Linked DNA regions of Homo sapiens: region 2 is linked to region 1. A link means that fine-mapping ties the variant in region 1 to the expression of a gene that starts in the linked region. Tissue or cell type: whole blood. Region 1 holds a variant in brackets; the other region holds the start of a gene. All regions are shown on one strand. Distances are from middle to middle.

What was found. PIP is the estimated chance that this variant, and not a neighbour inherited with it, causes the effect.
Region 2: it holds the start of TEX101, and the variant in region 1 is fine-mapped to the expression of TEX101 in whole blood (TOPMed, PIP above 0.99).

The regions. Positions count from the first base shown.
Region 1 is chr19:43,297,328-43,307,657 of GRCh38, reverse strand. It overlaps the pseudogene CEACAMP4. Among named protein-coding and RNA genes, the nearest start is that of LINC03078, 29 kb to the left of the region's middle. The variant A/G (reference allele first, on the strand shown) is at 5,251.
Region 2 is chr19:43,409,622-43,419,951 of GRCh38, reverse strand. TEX101 (testis expressed 101) reads right to left here and starts at 5,062. Exons shown (of 6, transcript NM_001130011.3): 1 at 4,914-5,062; 2 at 3,969-4,071; 3 at 3,710-3,853; 4 at 3,397-3,579; 5 at 1,946-2,074; 6 at 1,355-1,784. The coding sequence starts at 4,032. The coding sequence ends at 1,555. RefSeq lists a silencer at 6,675-6,861.

The DNA of each region.
Region 1 (10,330 bases):
ATTTTTGGGAGATAATTACAGTAAGACTAAGTCATAAAAGTGGAGGCTTCATGATAGAGTTAATGACCTTATAAATAGAAGAAAACATGGGAGAAGGGTCTCTACCTCTTTCTGTCTCTCCACCCACCTTCAAGCCTGCACCATGTGCAGATACAGCAAGAGAGCAGGAATCTGCAAGGAAGCCCTCACCAGGACTGAATCAGCTGGAACCTTGAACTTGGACTTCCCAGGCTCCAGAACTATGAGAAATAGATTTCTAAATTTTAAGTCACCCAGACTAAGGTGTTTGTTACAGCAGCTGAAGCCCATGAAAACATCATCTGACACACTGTTTTGAATAAAACTCTTCCATTTCTCCATCAAATCACCTGACAGTGCCTGTCCCCAGCAGCACCAGAGACCCCAAGAAAAGAGCTCCAGCAGGGGCTCAACCAGCATGGGTCCCATGGGGCAGCCTCAATGTCAGGCACCAGATGGCAGGTGAGGCTATAGTGATACAACCACAATGTGAAAGTACAAATTTTTTTTTTGCTATTTACAGACTCTGAGGAGCACATGGCACACCTAGAGATAATAGACACAGAGGTCAAGGAGTCCAGGCAGAGAGGAAAGTAGGGACCTGTAGGCCAATGGCTTTAGTGGGTCCAAGGCGTTAGCTGAGGTTTCCAGCAGAAAGCTTTAATGGGTGAGTTTAAAGCAAGCAAACACTGGGGCCAGGTGACCACGCTGTGACTGAGAGGTGGTCACTTTAAATTTCAGGGCAAATTTCACAACCGTCAGTTTAAAGGAAGCAGCTGGGTAGAGGGGGAGCCCAGCACACTAAGCAGGAGAGATGCCTCTAAGATTTTATCTCTGGCCACCAACTGCAGCCATTTGGCCAGGTACAGTATTGGGAACTGTCACGGTGACCAAGCCCTGCCTCTGATATAAAGCAGGTAAACTTACACCTTAATAAATGAATGCCAAGGCAACATGAAATTACGAGCACTGGTGACATCCACGGACACCAACAGTGTGTGGTGTTGAGCCCTAAGGTCAGGGTCCTGCATTCTTGGTCCCCTGGGAGTGAGAAACAAAGATGACTTGTCCCTGCTCCCTCTCTGCTCCTCTGTCATTGATCTTCCTGCCCTGCACCTCCCTCTTCTGCTTCCAAACCTCTGCCCAGTGCTCAGCCCCACCCAGACATCACTGTCCCCAGGGCATACACAGTGCAGCCCACTGCACACAAACACAAACTCACAGGTGACAGAAATCTGTGTTTGGGACATCTGATTGTGATAGAGGGAGGATAGTGAACTTACAGTCACAGAGACTGAGACTCATGGGGCTGGAATGTGATGGATCTGTGACATAGGTGAATAATCTGCTGTGAAATGTGCAGATTCACATGGAATAAAACATGCAGCCTTGCCTGGGGCTGCTGTCATCCAAATTTCCCCCATGTTCACCAGAGGATGGCAGAATCCCAGCCACAAGACTCCCCAGGGGCTGCTGACCCAGCCAAAAGGGCATCTGCAAGGGCAGCGATGGTCCACATGATGCCATATTAGGCACTTTACCCTTGTGACCTCTTTCCATCCTTATCAACTTTTTCTGTGACTGCTCCCTACATTCCCACCCCACTCCCTCTGTACGGTTCTCTAGGTTATCCCAGGCTGATCCCAGTGCTGACACAGAACAGCAGCTGCCTGAGTGCCCACAGTATTCCTAGGAATCAGCCAGGCACCCTATGACCTGCCCATTGCACGCTAGGAGGTGCAGAGGGTGTTTGAAGGTCACGCACAGGCACCATCCATGATGTGGCCACCTGCTGGAGGTTTTTCTACTCACCCACAATCTGCCCCCTGCTGTCTCTCGTGAAGCTGGGAGGGAAGACAGGGCTGTCCTTTGTGCATGGGGAAGGTGAAGTGGGGGGTATGAGCTCCTTTTGTTCTCAGAACATGGCCCACCCCCACACACCCTCTCAGGTGTGAGCAAAGTCCCTTCACGCAGGCTCTCCAGCCACTGCCTGTTCTTCTTCTACACAGAGGAGCTTGATCTGCCTCAATCCCTCAAGAGGAACCCCAAGGGATGTATAGCAAGAAGGGCTAAGCCCATCCTGGCTGCAGAGTAAGTCTGCAGAAATCTCTCCAGCTCTGAGCCCCTGTTCTTTCCCAGTCTCTCTCTCTGGGTCTTGAAGAGCTGTGTTCTGTGGGGACCCTGGGCATCACCCCACTCCCTTTTGCACCAGCCGTGGGGAAGGTGGGGTGACCACAGGACAGTCAGCTGGGCCAAGGACAGAGGACACCAAAGATGGTCAGGAAGAAAATGGATGGGCCTCACCCCAGCTCAGCCACCAGAACCCAGGGACCAAGAGAGTGGCTGAGACCTGTCCCTGGTGAACACTGGGCCCATAGGCCCCACTGACCAATCAGCACAGGCCTTTCCTACCAGGAGGCATAAGAGATTGATCCTGCACACCTCCACGAAGGAAAATACCCTCTTGGACAACCGGGTCATCGAATGTCTAACCATGGAAGCTGTAGCAAAGTTCAACATAATGAAAGAGAGGGAGGGTCCTTCTCACCAGCCAGCACTCAGCCCACCCAAAGCAAGGTGAGGGTGCATCACTGTGACAGGGTCATGGTGCAGCCCAGCCTCCTGCTTTGAAGAGAAAAGCCAGATGGGAATGGGAGAGGGCAGGGGGAGCGACTGTGCACCCTGACCTGGAGCAATGGAAATGGGAGGACACTGAGGGCCCAGGGCTGTGCTTACCAAACCTAAAGGATGTCTGTGTGTGTGTGTGTGTGTGTGTGTGTGTGTGTGTGTGTCTGCACATAGTGTGTGTAGAGGTTGGGTGAGAGAATCACTGCTGAAGGAGGCAGAGGACTCAGCAATTCCCAGGGGCCTGAAACACAGACAGAAGAGAAACAGAAAGGAGGGACAAGGAAGCAGGACTGAGAGGGGAGGGCACAGAGAGGTGTCCTGGGTACAGACCCCACCCATGAGCCTGAGAAGTGCTCCTGCCCCAGGAAGAGGCTCAGCATAGAAGGTGGAAGGACAGCCCAGCTGACAGCCCTGCTCAGAAACTTTCCGGATCCCAGGCTCATCTCCACAGAGGAGGACAAGCAGGCAGCACAGACCATGGTGCCCCCCTATCAGTCCCTTTCTCCAGATGGCACATCCTCTGGCAGAAGCTCATGTTCACAGGTGAGGAGAGAACTTCCTTGAAGAGGAAATGAGAAGGCACAGGGACTGGCTTGGGTCTCCTGGGGAAAATGGGGCTCCTGGGGAAAGAGGACTTAGAGCTTCTACTGCTGCCTTAACAGAAAAGAGGACACCAGAAGGGACAGGATTAAAACAGGAAAATCACATTGAACTGAAATTTATGGTAAGAAGCAAACAAATCTCAAGTGTTCTCTATTCCCGGTTAATCATCACTGGCCACTACATTTTGAAAAATGATCATAATAACTATATCAGATAACACTTCATATAAAAACATAGTGAGGGTATAAGGCATTGTCATCAGCCACCAACTTCAGAAATTGGGAAATAAATCACAGGCCTTGGAGGGCTCTGGGAATGCTCACAAACTCATTCACAAGAGTCCACAGCATGTCCCAGGCACTGCGGTACAACCAAGATCATACAAGTCCCTGCCCTCATGAACCTGATGCTGTTATGGGGAGGGGAGCGAGACACGCAAGGATATCTAGAATGTGAGGTCAGGTGTTGACAAGAGCCCTGGAGAAAACTGAGCAGGGAAAAGTGAGAAAGGGAAGACCCAGAATCTCTAGTGGAGGTGTCAAGAAAGGGCTCTTTCAAGGATGCCCTGATGTGAGCAGGATATGAGGTCAGTGGAAAGGGAACCATGCAGACCCCTGGGGAAGAGGATTCCACACAGGGAAATGCCAAGTTCAGAGGTGTTGAAGGAATGGGGGTCATGCTGCTGACCTTGACCCAGCAGGACACACACACACACACACACACACACACACACACACACACACACACACACACACACATTCTCTCTCTCTCCAAGGCTCATGGGTGAAGAGAACCTCTAAGGACAAAGGGCCCCAACTTTCCATCCCAATACATAGGTTTTGATATTGACTGATGCTCCCTCCCCATCCTAGCCTCACTTTTAACCTTCTGGAACCCACCCACCACTGCCAGAGTCACTACTGAAGCCATGCCATTCAATGCCACAGAGGAGGAGGAGGAGGAGTTTTTTCTACTTGCCCACAATCTGCCCCTGAAAGTGATGGGCTACAATTGGCACAAAGGAAGAAGTGTGGATCTCTACTATTGAATTTTAGGATATGCAACAGGCATTCAAAGATCTAGCTCAGGACCTGCATACAGTAGTCAGGAGGTAATATTTGCCAATGCATCCCTGCTGACCCGGAAAGTCACCCAGGATGACACAGGATTCTATACCCTACAAATCATAAAGACAGATTTTACCATTGAAGAAGCAACTGGATATTTCCGTGTACACCGTGAGGAATTCATGACCTCTGGGTGTTGGGGGTCAGTTCTACTTCACGCACCCACAGGATTGTTAGGCCTGGGCTGTGCCTGTGTCCCCCTCTGCATTATGTCCCATTTTAGTGTTTGGGCATTCAGTGCAGGACACACACAGGGTAGACAAATTTCAATGGATCAGAATTCATTTCCTGCATCCATACTCTGAAGACACGTGCTGCAGAGAAAGGACAATCTGATGGGGGAAACTCAGCAGGAGGAGATCAGTCTCAGCCCATCACCCTGTGCACTTCCCATGAACATGATTCGGAAAAAGACCCTGGAGAACTACATCAGGGCCCGGTTTGAGGGGTCCCCTGGGATCCTTATAGAGAAGCTCAGTCCTAGAAGCCTAGAAGCCCTGGCCCCAGAACCCAGTCCTCAGATCCTGAATCCAAGTGACCCTGGAAAACCTGTGCCAGGGCTGGGTTGTGGCCTCCTGAGCAGGACTGACTGGGAGCAAGTATTGACCAGCTGTATGATGGATGTGGCTCTGGAGCTGCTCCCAGGCAGGGTTCAGCCCCAAGAGCCTCATCTGGTCAAAGACAGAGCCTTCTCTTTCACCTGAGACTCAGAGTGAACAGATGGACAAGCTTCTTAGGCTATCAGCCAACTGCCCTGGGAGGCTTAGGAGACCCCATAGAAAGTTCAGTGTCCCCTGGGACAGAAATAGAAGAGACAAGATGTTCCCGGCAGCAACTTGTCCACAGGGATCAGGTCTGAGGGTGCTCACTCATG[A/G]AGGCAAATAATAAACACTGTTTGTGTGAACACCTCCTCTATGCCAAGCGTTAGGTCAGGTGACTGTGAATAATTTAAAGTTCATTCAGAGTCAACACGACAAGTCACAGACCATTTACCATTTAGCTTATATGATTGAGAGGAAACTGAGCCACAGGGAGACACAGTCACTGAACCAGGGTCACACAAACATGAGGGGCAGATCAGAGTCACACGAGGTCTTTCTGTAACCACACCTCCATCCTCTCCTCCATGAGAAGTGAGGTCTTATTAAGTTCTAAGGAGCCCATGGTCATCTGTCGGCTCAAATCCTTTCTTCTTAGGCATCCAAACCTCAGAGGAGTGAGAGCAAATGGACTACTGATTCGTTTGTACTCCAGAACTAAATCACCTGCCTCAACTGTCAGAGCCAGTAGGAGGAATGTCCAGACCTTTCCCTCAGATCCTAATCCTCCTCATGGAACCTGAAATCCTGTGTTTTCCAAAGAGTCAGTATCATTCCCATGAAAGAATAAAGGAGAGGACTTGGCTTTCTCTCCCCATTCACACTAACACAGGCTCAGTGTGAGATACACACTCTGTAGTTCTCACATGAGGGAAGGAGCCATTGAATGAAGGAATGAATGATTCATAACCTCTTTAGGGACCGGATCCTGGATGCAGAATCCTAGAGGTTTCTGGCCACACCTGTTCCCTATCACTTGGGTGCTGAGACCCATGTTCCTTCCCTCTTACTCCCTGTCCCTAAAGCTACCTCGTCTCATGTGACTCCAGGGTTCCTAGGCCATGGGAGGGCTTTCAGGGATCCCTGGTACTGAACTGAGACCCTGGGGGCCCCTGGTCACTGGGGTCACTGCTCCCTGCCATGGGTGTCTCTGGCTCCCTCTGCTCCTCTGTGTCCCTCATCTTCTGCCCCCGGCTCCACCTTCATTCTAGCTGGCATGCCCTGTCCAGCACATCTTTCTCCATGCTTTGGACTTCCTCAGACAAAAGCTGACTATTCTGCTCCTTTTCTGCTCACACTGTGGCCTGACTGCACCCCCTCCCCACCCCCAAAAAAAACACTGAAATTAGCCAGAGTTGCCACTTCCGCCAGGCTCCATTATGAGCCATTGTCTTCAGGTCACCAGGAGAATGAGCTTTCACTGTATCCTGTTCCAGGGCTCTTTCCTTCTGAGAGGCTGACTCATGGAACAGGCCACCAGATAGAAATGAGTGGTTTCTCCATCCACTCTTATAATTACCTGACAGGAAGACCGACAGGTCCATCCTGCTCCCTGCGCAGGCAAAACTAATTTATGAAGAGGGTGATTTGTAGTAAAGAAAGATTTTAATTAGCCCAAGGCTGCCAAACAGGAGCTTATTTTATTATTACTCAAATCAACCTCCCCAATGGCTAGGGTTGGAGTTTTTCAAAAAGTTTGAGGTCTAAGGAATGGGTCCTGGTGATTGGATGGGAATGAAATCATGCAGGTGGGGGAAATCGTCTCTGTGTGTTTGATCTGCCTCTGACTGGGGGCCACATGACTGGAGGCATTGCTCACGGGTCTGGATGAGGCCAGCTGGTTGCCAGAATGCAAGTCTGAGAAATATCTCAAAAGACCAATCTCATAATCTATAATAGTGATGTTATCTATAGGAGCAATTAAAGAAATCACAAGTCTTGTGACTGCTGGCCACATGACTCCTGAGCAATAATGGATTATAGAAACTATGACTACATTTTAGCAGGATTTTGGTCCCTCCTATAATCCTAATGTTATGGTCTTGTATTACTTTGACAAAGACCATCCTTGAGTAGGAGGGAGTTTATTTTAGTAAGGGGATATTATCATTCTTGCTTCAAAATTACACTGTAAACTAAATTCCTCCCATGGTTAACCTGGCCTATGCCCATGAATGAGCAAGGACAGCCAGCCTCCAGCTAGAGGTAAGATGAAGTCTGCCATACTAGCTCCATCTCGCTGCTGTAATCTTTGCAAAGGTGGTTTCACTCTCTCCACTGACTCACCAGGGGATCAGAGGAAGGACATGTCTACAGTCCCCAATGCCCACAGGCTTATTTTACCCATTTCACTCCAACCTCATCCTGCTGTGGTTGTCACTCAGTTGTAACAAGTAGAAAGATGAATAAACTTAAAAATCAAAAACTCTTTTCGACCGCTCAGAGAAGCAAGGTCTCAGAGCCAACTCCCCCATAAATTGGAGAGACCCACAGGTAAATACAGAGCAGCACGTCTTACCTGAGCAGAAACCCAGGCCCAGAAACTCAGTGGGGTGTCTTTTGCATCCTAGCCACCGGCTGACCTTATCCAGACACAGTCAAAAACCCTGAACTGTAACTGATGAATTGCTGAAGGCTCAATGTGGACAAGGCACAGAGTTAAACACTCCAGCAGATGGATCAGGTATGGGATTAGGAGGACAATTTTATGGCTCTCACTTCCTGGAACTATACCAGGTTTTCACAGTGAATATTCAATAAAATTCCCCTCATCTTTCTTGTGGGGGATGGGGAGGAACCACTTAGATGGCAGTGAATTCAATTCTTCCTGGCAAGACCTGTATTCATAAAGATTGTTTTACCATAGCCGAATCAGCTGGGGTTTGATGGAAGCTTAACTGGCCTGGTGAAGGGAAAATGTCCAACTCCAGCCCCCTCTAGCCATCATATCCCACCTAAGGAGGAGAAAATACTGAGAGGCAGTTGTGACATTCACAACCCAGGGAACAGACCTCATTCAGGACCACAGAACTCCTCCCTCCCCACATTCACCACTATATCATTGAAGGCCGGCTCACCCAAGTTCCTTTTACCCAGTACATCATGTCTGGCTTTCAAAAAAAAAAAAAAAACAGAAAAAAGTACAAGACAGGCTATGGCAAAAAAAAAAAAAATGTGGTTTGAAAGAGCAAGGATCAGAACCAGACACAGATATGGCAGAGATGTTGAAATTATCAGACTGAAAATTTAAAGCAACTCTGGTTACCAGTTATGAAGGAAAAAGTAGACACCATGCAGGAAAAGATGGGTGATGTAGGCAGAGAGATGGATATTCTAAGAAAGAACTTTAAACAATGCTATAAAAAAAAGTCTATAAATGAAGAAGCCTGGTAGCCTGGGCACAACTGAGGAACAAATATCTAGCTTGAGGGTGTGTCAACAGAAACTTCTAAAACGGAAACAGCAAAGTTTAAAAAGAATGCGAAAAAAGTGGAACAACTTATCCAGCTTTCTTTCCAATATTTTGTATTGACAATAGCATATTTTATATTTTGGAGTTGTGGGACCACTTCAAAGTCTGTAACATACACATAATGAGAATAGTAGTGGTTCCTGGGACAGGATGGAGCTGGCCAGGTGGGTGCTGTCTGATGGGTTTGCTGCCAGTTTTACACACACCTGTGTCCTCATGATGACACCATTGTCGAAAGGTGGGGTCCTTCAGGTGGGGAGATGCATGAGGCACTGGCGTCTCCCTTAGACTCTGCCCAATTTAAACAAATGTAATCAAACTCTAGTGTTTCTTGAGATCAAGAGAAAATGATGAAAGCATTTCACATGCCTCTTTTGGGCTCCTCCCCTTTTTGCCTAACTGCACAGAAATTAGAAGCAGGGAGCTCTTTCTAAATTCACTAACATAACACACATCACTTCTCTTAATTTGGCGTCATTCCTCACTTTATGTAATTGACACACCTAAGACTTTCTCTCTGATCAATCCTGTCCTCCCAACAGAATGCACATGCCTCCCACTACCCAGGGAGTTGCTAATTCCAAACCATCTTCAGCACCTTTCTTTGAGCATAATGTGATCCAACTGGAATTCAGAGCAGACCTAAACCTTTTTATGTTATCAAGATGAATACTACTTCCAGCAATCGATCTTAGATCTTTGGGCCGTTAATAACAGTGTCCACTTATAGAAAAAAAATGTTTCCTGCAAATTTTCATTTTACTATTGTCAGAACATGACATGAAGTCCAAACTCATGATGAATTTTTAAATGCAAATGTTAGTAGTAAACATTGAGCATCCCAAATCTAAAAATCCAAAGTCTGAAATGCCCTAAAATCCAACGATTTTGACCCCTGATGTGATGCTTAAAAGAAATGTTCACTGGAACATTTGGATTTTGAATTATTAAAATATGAAATGCTAAACCAGTAAGTATACTGCAAATATTCCAAAATCAAAAAAAGTAGGACATCCAAAACACTTTTGGTCCTAAGTCTTATGCATAAGAAATACTCAATCTGTATGAAGTATAGGCACCAAGCTGTACAGTAGACCTCTAGAACTTTCTCATTCTGCATCACAGAAACTGCAGACCCACTGAACAACTCCCTATTCCCCCCACTGTTTTTGATATGTAGTTCTTCTGAAATATTCTGAATATAATATTTTGAAAATTAATCCCTTATCAGATGTATAATTTGCAAATAGTTTTCCATCTCATGGGTTGCCTTTTCACATTCTCGATAATGTTGTCCTTCTTCATTAATAGGCTACATCAACAACTCACTAATCCAGTTGAGAAACAGAAGCTAAATGGAAAAGCCACCTTATTTGATATGTTAAATTATATAAAAAGCATTTTCAAATGATAAGTGATAAGTGATGCTAAACCTTCTCTAAGTTTTATTTATGGGTATGTTACTGATGTGAGTGTCCCCAAAATTATGAGATTCCTAGAAACTGAATATGTTATTATAATAATCATGTCATATTCCACAGAAGTTAGTCAGAATGTAATATGCCACAGAAGTAACTAAATTTCTATGTGAGCTGTCTTTATCATTTATTCCTTCTCTTCTTTTTTTTTCCATGACAGCTGCTTCAGGACAAGAAAGTTCTTTTGGTCTCTCAGTTGGGGCCACTGTCAGCATCATGATTGGAGTACTGGCTGGAGTTACTGTCTTTATTATACCAAACTCTTATCAGAGTTTTAACAACAGTCATTTTACATGTTGGTGATTCACAGATAGTTGTTTTGATTCTTCCTGAAAGCATCTGCAATCAGCTACAGTCCAAAATTGCTTCTATTTCAAAAGATTTATGGAAAAGATACTGACAAGT
Region 2 (10,330 bases), 110 kb before region 1:
AGAGCAGGCAAGGGATAGACAGGACACAGAGAAATGGGGCCCACTGTAATGAGAGAATTTGCCTTTTGTTTTGATAGAGGATCTCACTCTGTCATCCAGTCTGAAGTACAGAGGCATGATCATGGCTCACTGCAGCCTCAACCTCCTGAGCTCAAGTGCAGACAAAAAATAAAATTATAAGCCACTCCCCGCCCCCAACCATCTGAAGGGTCCCCTCCTCTCAGCCAGGGCTTTCCAAAGTTAACCTGAAAAACTGGTTCAGGCCATGCTGTGGGAAGGGAGAGTCGGCCATGCCTCAATATACCCGCCTCCCTTTTGGATTTTGGGAAAAGCTGACCAGCATGAACATCAACACAGACCTTAAGTCTGATAAACATTTACAATGTATTCTCTCTGAAGCCTGCGACATGGTGGCTTCATTTGTGTAATAAAACTTTGGTTTCCACAATCCCTTATCATCGTAACCCAGACATTCCTTTCTACTGATTCCAGGTCTTTAGATAATAACTCTTTTAACCAATGGCCAATCAGAAAATTTTTGAATCTACCTATAACCTGGAAGTTTCCTCCACTTGGAGTTGTCCTGCCTTTCTGGACTGAAACAATGTACATCTTACATGTATTTGATTGCCTCATGTCTTCCTAAACGGTATAAAACTAGGCTGTGCCCCGACCACCTTAGGCACGTTTTCAGGGTCTCCTGAGGGCTGTGTCACACACCACGGTCACTCACATTTGGTTCAGAATAAATCTTTTCAAATATTTTACAGAGTTTGACTCTTTTTGTGGACATAAGTGATCATCCCACTTCAGCCTCCCAAGTAGCTGGGACTACAGGCGAGCGCCACCATGCCAGGCTAATTTTTGGATTATTTTTTTTTGTAGAGATGTAGTCTCATTAGGTTGCCCAGGCTGGTCTCAAACTCCTTGGCTCATGCAATCCTCCCACCTCTGCCTCTCAAAGTGCTGGGATTACAGGTATAAGCCACTACAGCAGGCCCATAACTGGAGAATTTGGAGTCTGATTTTTCTCATTTGGCCATACTTCCTAGGGAAATTTTAGAACCCCAAAACAGCAGCCTTAAGATTGGGCTGGGAGTGTTCTGGAGGAGGCTAATGCTAGTTACTTCTGCTAGCAAGGAGAGCTAGCATATTAGAGTGAAAGGAAAATCAGACTTTACGTCAAAATATGTAAGTTCTTGCCTTGGCTCTGGCCATAGCTAAATGTAAGAAACTCACTGAAATTTTCCAGATCTCAGATTCTCTTTCTGGAGAATGTGTGGTTTGGAGAAGATGAATTTTAAAGGCTCTTTCAGCACTAAAATTCCACTTCTAGTGTTGAAACATACACAAATCACAGCAGAAATGTTTATTAGTAACGCCTACTGCATACAAAAATTATAGCAGAAATTGTATTAAAAATGTCAAATACGTTCATAGTATCTCTGTATTCTCCCTCAAATTCCCATCTACTCCTCAGCTTGTTGAACCTCAACAGTAAGAAGGCTCCCAGTCAAAAAAGATGTCCTCAGACCCAGGCCCAGAAGTGCCTTCTTAGGAAAAGTGAATAAATGATGGCAGCAGCAATGGCAGCAGTAGCTGTAACCCCCAAACAGGAATGGGAAGACAGGTGGCCCCATTTTCAGTCTTTCGAGGTTGAGTGAGCAGCTGATGTGGGCACGCTTCCCTCACAAACATGGGTCCTACTGCTAAGATTCCAGACATCAGCCTGCAGCCAATCATGGCTGTACAGCCTTTGACCTCCACAGACGACTCAATGCCACCTATAGAACAAGGAAGGATCGGGAGAGACAGAGATGTTTTAGGACATCAGAGGAGAATCCAGTCCCCCCTCATCCCTGGAGAGCTCAGTGTCAGAATCTCTGGGGAGCCACTCAAATGGTTTTCCAGCCTCTGAAACTATCAGATGTTCATTTCAGTTTACCTCCAGTGATCTCAAGTTTTCCTTGATAGCATCGAGTTGTACCATTGGGACAGGGAAGAGAAGGAGCACTGAAACAGGTCCCCAAAGCCACACAGGTTGGACAATGGAGGGTTGTTGACACAGTGGAAGCTGGAGGGAAATGAGAGAGACAGTTAAGGGCAGGTCCTGCCTCCAGAGATGTTGCTCCTTGCTGCCTTCTCTTCCCCAAGATTTTCCTGCAGATGCCACTCTAATCAAGGCCCATTACTTCAGCCTCCCCATCCTTCCCCAGCTGGTGTTCTCTGCTGTGAAATCTCCATCGATCTGACTTCCAAACTCTGCTGAGGTGTGAAGATACAGAGATGAAAAGGACATAGTTCCTGTCACCTGGCATCTCTGCCTAGGAGAAAGACATGTAAGTAATCAATTCAGTAGCTGCTGTGTTCAAGGTATAATGACAAAGGAATGGAGGAATACCCAACTACCTAAAAGAATTTGGCAAATATTTTCAAAGAGCTGATACCTGAATTGACATGGAGGATGAACAGGGGTTAGCTATGTGAAAATGGGGTGGGGAGGGTAGTAAAGGAAACAGCAAGGACAAAGGTCAGGTGGTGTGAGCCAGCTTGGTGGATTCAGGGAATTGTGAGAAGTTGCACGACTCATATTCAGCTTGTAGGCCCAGCTGTTTCTTTGATCTGTTTTTTTTGTTTTTGTTTTTGTTTTTTATGGCCAGAATCCATTTTGATTGGCCAGTGCCATCTACATTGTTAAGCATTTTGAGTATTAGCCCCAGTTAGCACACAGTAAATGAGAGAGGGAAGAGAGGGAAATGAAGCTGAAAAGACAGGAAGGGCCAAGTTACTACAGGCCTTGTAAATTGGGGAACTGGGCCGTTCTCGTGCAGCAGTGGGAAACCAATACTTGTTAGACTGATAATACCACCCTGTTCGGAAACCTACACTGATGTCTTATTGCTTTTTTTTTTTTTTTTTTTGATGGAGTCTTGCTCTCTGTCCCAGGCTGAAGTGCAGTGGTGTGATATTGGCTCACTGCAACCTCTGCCTCCTGGGTTCAAGCAATTCTCCTGCCTCAGCTTCCCGAGTATCTGGGATTACAGGTGTGCGCCACCAGGCTAAGCTAATTTTTGTATTTTTAGTAGAGACAGGTTTTCACCATGTTGGCCAAGCTGGTCCCAAACCCCTGACCTCAGGCGATCCACCTCACCCAGCCTGTCTTATTGCTTAATAAACACAAAACCCAGTTTACACTCCAGGCTTCACTGGTATCTCGCTGCTCTGAGCAGTGTTTAGATCCCAATGAACAATTCAGAAACATAAAATTACTTGAACTGTGAGGTACTTTGGGGTATGGACCACTTAGGCTAAGCCAAGTCAGAATGCAAAGGGAGGCCATACACAAGCTCTTTATGGAGTTTCTCTTAGTACCTATCTCCCCCACTTCCAGGGTACCTGTGGTCTCACTGAACTCCCAAAACTGAGACAGGCTGTCTTTGTCATTACAGAAGGAATCCTCACAGTAGTTACTGTAGGAGGTCACGATCAGGCCGGGAGGTGAAGAGTGCTGGACAATTGTTATGGCCTCCTCCCCTTCCGGGATGCAGCCCTTCGTGGCCAAAATGGCTGTCTCAGTCCCTGTTATGAGACAGGAAGGAGGGGAAATGGATGGTGGCCGTCACAATTGGCCTGGACGAAGGGAACAAGCATTGGCATGGAGATAATCAACCTCCCTCCTACCCAGCCCAAATGCCCCATCTCATTTCACCTGCTTTAATTATTAGTATGGTTTCCTGGCAAAGTGCCCCTTTGTCACAAGTCTCCACTTCCTCTGTGGTCCAGTTAAACATATTGGCTGGATCTGCTTCCACAGTCATGGACAGACCCTTTTGACAATACAGCTCTAGGCCCGCTGAGGAGAAAACAAGAAAAGGATAAGCACTTCTCCATGGGCCAAGGCGGCTCCCTTTTCATCATCAGTCCACCTTCTGTGACACACGGCTCTCCCCTATGTCCCCCATACGCACAGGTCAGGAGGGAGGCTCCTAGGACCAGGAGGATCAGCAAATGCTGGATACGAGGGGTTCCCATGGCTTCTTCTGGAGAGGTCTGGGAGGAGCTGGTCTGGATCTGTGAATTTGATGGAGAGAAGGCAATTAACTTTTCAGCCAGAGTGCATGAGATCAAATCTAGGTCCTGGCAAGTACTGACTTCAGGGTGGGGTGTTTTAATCTGCATTTTTTTTTTTTTTGAGACGGAGTCTTGCACTGTCGCCCAGGCTGGAGTGCAGTGGCGCAATCTCGGCTCACTGCCTCTGCCTATCAGGTTCAAGCAATTCTCCTGCCTCAGCCTCCCGAGTAGCCGGGATTACAGGTGCCCGCCACCACACCCAGTGAATTTTTTGTATTTTTAGTAGAGATGACGTTTCACCATGTTGGTCAGGCTGGTCTCGAACTCCTGATCTCAGGTGATCTGCCCGCCTCGTCCCCCCATAGTGCTGGGATTCCAGGAGTGAGCCCTGATGCCCGGCCTCACAGTGGGGTTTATGGTGTATATGACCACGACTTCTAAAGTCGTTCTGTCCCTAACCGGCTTGTGAGCTGGAGCGAGTTCACAGGTTTATCACGCCCCAGTTTTTCATGGTTTTAATTCTCAGGCCCGGCCACCCAGTGCCCTCCAACTTCAGGATCAGGAGTGTGGCCCTGAAGGCCGCTTCTCCCTCAGTCTCAGGGGTCCCTTACATTCTCTCAGGGACCCAGAATCTCGGCCCCCAGCCCCAGCCCCAGCCTCATCAGAACCCGGGATTCTGAGAGCCCAGCCCCGTCCTATGTAGGGATCGAGGAGTCTGGGTTCCAACCACCTTTTCCTGCGGGACACACCATTCTGGTCCCCTCCCTCTCAGGCCCGGGAGCCCAGGCCCCCAACCCTCGTTCCCCTCAGAGCCAGGATCTGGGTCCCCAGCCTTCTCTTTCCTCAGAATCCAGGAATCTGAGTCCCTAGCCTTCTTTTTCTCTTTAAAGAAGCAAAATTGCTGCCGGCTTCCAGGCAGACGCCTCACAAGAATCTCACGACGCCAAAGTTGAGGCCCGGAACGCCTTCTCCCCGGGCTTGGCATTCTCTTACGACGCAAGGCCGGGCCAGCCTGGCCACACAGCACTCGAAACCCCATTGGTGGATGCAAAAGCATCGGATAAGTTCATTGGATGAGCCTGGAGGAACGCGGCACCTCATTGGCCACAGAGAAGTCAATTCCTGGCAATCTCGGAGGGTGCGCATGCTCGGAAGGTGAGTGGCGGGCAAACCGGCCGGAAGATCCTGCCTGTTTTTGCAGCCAGAGGCACGCAATGGAGGGTGGGCAGTGCGTTGCCAGATGGCCTCGCCTGGCCCATTTCTCTTTTTGCACTCTGTTGTCTCTGCTTCTCCAGCCACACTAGGAGGTCAGACCCTTGGCCCTCACTCACGGAACTTATCTCCCTACCCAAATGGCCTCTCATGTTCCCAGCCTGGCCCCTGCCTCGGCACCCACCTTAGTGGCCCTAGCCTCTGGGAGTCAGCTTGGCCTCTTGAGTCTTCACTTGCAGTGGCCCCTGTGCAGCCCAGGCGTCTTCATCTGATTGCGCTATCGCACCAGCCTCCTCATGGTCTCCTGGAGGGTTGAATCTAGGAATGCCCCCCTCAGCATCACTTTGGGCACCCCGAATGCATGCATGAGCAGTAGCTATGATGGCACAGGCTGCTGTCAGATCGAACCCACGCGTCCGTGTCAGGACCATGAAGAAGACATGTCACTCGGATTTGTTGCTCATGGCTGGCAGTTCACTTTCACATCTATGTAACCTTCCCTTCCCTCCCCTCCCCTCCCTTCCCCTCCCCTTCCCTTCCCTTTTTGACAGACTTTTGCTCTTTTTGCCCAGGCTGGAGTGCAATGGCACAATCTTGGCTCCCTGCAACCTCCTCCTCCTGGGTTCAAGTGATTCTCCTACCACAGCCTCCCAGGTAGCTGGGATTACAGGCATAAGCTACCATGCCTGGCTAATTTTTTGTATTTTTTTTTTGGAGACAGAGCCTCTCTCTATCCCCCAGGCTGGAGTGCAGTGACGTGATCTCAGCTCACTGCAACCTCCCTCTCCCAGGTTCAAGCGATTCTCATGCCTCAGTCTCCCCTGAGCAGCTAGGATTACAGGCACCTGCCACCACACCTGGCTAATTTTTGTATTTTTAGTAGAGACGGGGTTTCGCCGTGTTGACCAGGCTGGTCTTGAACTCCTAACCTCAGGTGATCTGCCCACCTCGGCCTCCCAGAGTACTGGGATTACAGACGTGAGCCACCACCCCTGGCCTATGTAAGCTTTCCAGGTGTGACATGAAGTTGTAGCAGGATGAGCTGCAGACAAAACTCCTCAGATACTGGATTAAAGAAGGAAGAGGTTTATTTGGCCGGGAGCCTCAGCAGACTTGCGTCTTAAGAGCCGAGCTCCCTGAAAAATAAATTCTTGGCCTTTTTTTTTTTTTTTGGAGTCTCCCTCTGTTGCCCAGGCTGGAGTGCAGTGGTGCAATCTCGGCTCACTGCAAGCTCTGCCTCCCGACTTCATGCCATTCTCCTGCCTCCGCCTCCCGAGTAGCTGGGACTACAGTCACCCACCACCACACCCGGCTAATTTTTTTGTATTTTTAGTAGAGATGGGGTTTCACTGTGTTAGCCAGGATGGTCTCGATCTCCTGACCTCGTGATCCGCCCGCCCCCCAAAGTGCTGGGATTACAGGCATGAGCCACCACGCCTGGCCAATTCTTGGCCTTTTTAAAGGCTTACAACTTCGAGGGGTCCACATGAAAGGGTCGTGATAAATCGAGCAAGCGTGGGAAACGTGACTGGGGGCTACATGCATCAGGTAACAGAACAGAAAGTTTTGCAATGCTTTTTCATATAATGTCTGGAACTTACAGATAACACAAGTAGTTTAGGTCAGGGGTTGCTGTTATTATTATTACTTTTTTTAACTCCTAGGGCTGGGTGGTGGTGCCAAGGTTGACTGGCTATTTATCTTACTTCTGTTTCTTTCCAACTTTTTGCTTTCTCTCTTTCCTCCTGTCTTGTGAACTAGGCAAGGTCGGGGGAGGAGGGCAGCAGGAGTAGTAGTGGTCTCCTTCCTTAAAGTAAGGCAACGCTTTGTATACTTTCAGAATTGGTACTGATTCTGTAAGTTATAGTATAAATGAGTATTTATTTTTAATAGAGAAAATGCCACAATAAGAAAGGGATTGGTAAAGCTTCAATCCCTTTGTTATCTTTGAACTGTTATCTTTGAATGATCACATGTCAAAGGATCCAGGAAGAATGTGTGCCAGTTTTCAGCCCCCGTCTGTCCCCCGAGGGCTCGTGCTTGGGAAAGCAGTCACCTTGTTGAGTCACTCTCCAGGTGACTTGGTCGCAGAATCCCTCCATCTCACACCTAGAAGAGACCTTGGAAGCCTAAGCACCCTCCACCTCTATTCTTCACCCCATTTCTGCTTCAACAGCTCCAGGGACCTCCTCTTGCTCCGTGACATAGTTTGGATATTTGTCCCCCGCCCAAATCTCATGTTGAAATGTAATTCCCAGTGTTGGAGATGCGACCTGGTGGAAGGTGTTTGGGTTATGGGGGCAGATCCTTCATGACTTGGTGCTGTCCTTGCAATGATGAGTGAGTCCTTGCCAGATCTGGTTGTTTAAGTGTGTGGCACCTCCCCTTCTTACTCTCTCTCGCTCCCCTTCTCTGGCCTGCATCCTTTTGCCATAAGTAAAAGCTCTCTGAGGCCTCCCCAGAAGGAGATGCTGGCACCACGCTTCCTGTACAGCTGCAGAACCTTGAGCCAATCAAACCTCTTTTCTTATAAATTACTTCTAGTCTCAGGTATTTCTTTATAGCAGTGCAAGAACACCCCAATACACAGCCCCTTGAGAAAGGTGGCTTTGCCTTTTTGGTGCAAGAGAGATTGACAGATCTTCCTTAGCCTGAGCCAATTTCTGTTCCTCTCCAAGCTTCAGTGTCCTCATCTAGAAAATGAAGAGGTTAGGCTGGGTGCAGTGGCTCAAGCCCATAATCCCAGCACTTTGGGAGGCCAAGGTGGGTGGTTCACCTGAGGTCAGGAGTTTGAGACCAGCCTGACCTTCACCAACACGGTGAAACCCTGTCTCTGCTAAAAATACAAAAATTAGCCAGGCCTGGTGGCACGCGCCTGTAATCCCAGCTACTTGGGAGGCTGAGGCAGGAGAATCACTTGAACCTGGGAGGCGGAGGTTGCAGTGAGCTGAGACTGCACCATTGCACTCCAGCCTGGGCAACAAGAGCAAAACTTGGTCTTGGTCTCAAAAAAAAAGAAAAAAAAGAAAAAAAAGAAAATGAGGAGGTTAGTCTAGAGCAATGGTTGGCAAATAGTTTATGAATCCATGGAACGTTTGTAAAAAAGAAAAAAGCTCAATGGCTAATATACAGTGAAGGCATCTTTTTATATAAGCACTTGTGACACCACCATTGGTCACTGGATTATTGCAGTACGCCCTGCCCTTGCCCATGTGGCTATTTCCCACCTGGCACCAGAGCGATCTCTTAATTGCAAGCCACACCACATTACTCCTGTTTAAAACTTTCTAATGGGCCAGGCACGGTGGCTCAGGCCTGTAATCCCAGCACTTTGGGAGGCCGAGGTGGTGGATCACCTGAGATCAGGAGTTCGAGACCAGCCTGGCCAACATGGTGAAACCCTGTCTCCACTAAAAATGAAAAAATTAGCTGGGCGTGGTGGTGCGCCCCTGTAATCCCAGCTACTCTGGATGCTGCAGCGAGAGAATCATTTGAACCTGGGAGGTGGAGGCTGCAGTGAGTCAAGATTGTGCTACTGCACTGCAGCCTGGGTGACAGAGCAAGACTCTGTTTCAAAAAAACCAAAACCTTCCAGTGGATTCTCATTTTACCTCAAGTAAGATTCTAGGCTGGGTGCCATGGCTCATGCCTGTAATCCCAACACTTTGGGAGGCTGAGGTGGGAGGATCGCTGGAGCCCAGGAGGTGGAGGTTGCAGTTGCAGTGAGCCGAGATAACGCCACTGTACTCCAGCTTTTGCTCTGGTGACAGAGCAAGACCCTGTCTCAAAAAAAAATTTTTTTTTTGTACTTTATAGTATAATTGGCTATGTGTGTTCATGTGTGACTGTGAGTGCATGCATGTTTGTGTGTGCACATGTCTGTATATATGTATGTCTGTGTGTATCTGTGTGCTGTGTGTGAATGTGTGTCTGATGTGTGTGTCTCGGTGTACATGTCAGTGTGCATGTGTGCATGGGCATGTGTGTATCTGGTTCCTTCCAGCTGTGTCTGATCCATCTCTGTGTACTCAGCATATGATTACAGTGTAGGTAAGTAAACATTTGCTGGATTAAAGAATGTCTCTTAGATCCAGAAATGAGAAACACACAACAGTGAGCCACCACATACCTCAGGCCCTCCGTATTCCATCCTCAGAATTTTTTCCATGCTTCCTGTATTCCTGGGGGAAAATTCCAACCTCCCACACTGGTCTTGGAGACCAGCCCCCATGCCTCACCCTTATCATTCCCTGTCTAATATCTATTCCCAGGACATCCCTAGTCTCTTCCAGCCTCTTTGGCTTTGCTCACACTGGTCCCTCTGCATGGGAGACCTCTCCCTAATCCGCTTCCCCCATGCATTTGTTTACCCCACAAACTCCTAATTGTCCTTCAAAGCCCATTCCTCCAATGCCCACAGCCCTCAGTGAAGCCGGCATAAGCATCGTGCAGCTCCCTTTTTGAGTGCTCCAGTTCTCCTACCAACAGGCCTATGCACACACCCAGTTCCCTCTCAAACCAACAGGCTTTTCCTTCCTACTTGTAAAGGATTGAGATCTTCTGCAAACCTTACAAAACAATGAGTTGTAAGCCTTGAGGTTAAACCACCAGTTTTACTTATTTTTTTTTTGAGACAGGATCTCTCTCAATCTTGTCCAGGCTGGAGTACAGTGGTGCAATCACAGCTCACTGCAGCCTCAAACTCCTGGGCTCAAACAATCCTCCCACTTCAGCCTCTTGGGTGGGAGTACAGGAACATGTCACCATGCCAGCTAATTATTTTACTATTAAACCCCAAGCCACAGAATGTCTTTTTGAAGACTGCTAATTACTAATCATAGAGGAAACACTCGCCTTGCTTACACTCACATTTGTTTCTCCTTTTCTTTTTTTTCCACAGAGATGGAGTCTTGCTCTGTCACCCAGAGCTGGAGTGCAATGGTGCAATCTTGGCTCACTGCAACCTTCGCCTCCCAGGTTCAAGCAATTCTCCTGCTTCAGTCTCTTTTACCTTCTGTTTTGAATTCTATTTTCTTTCTTTCTTTTT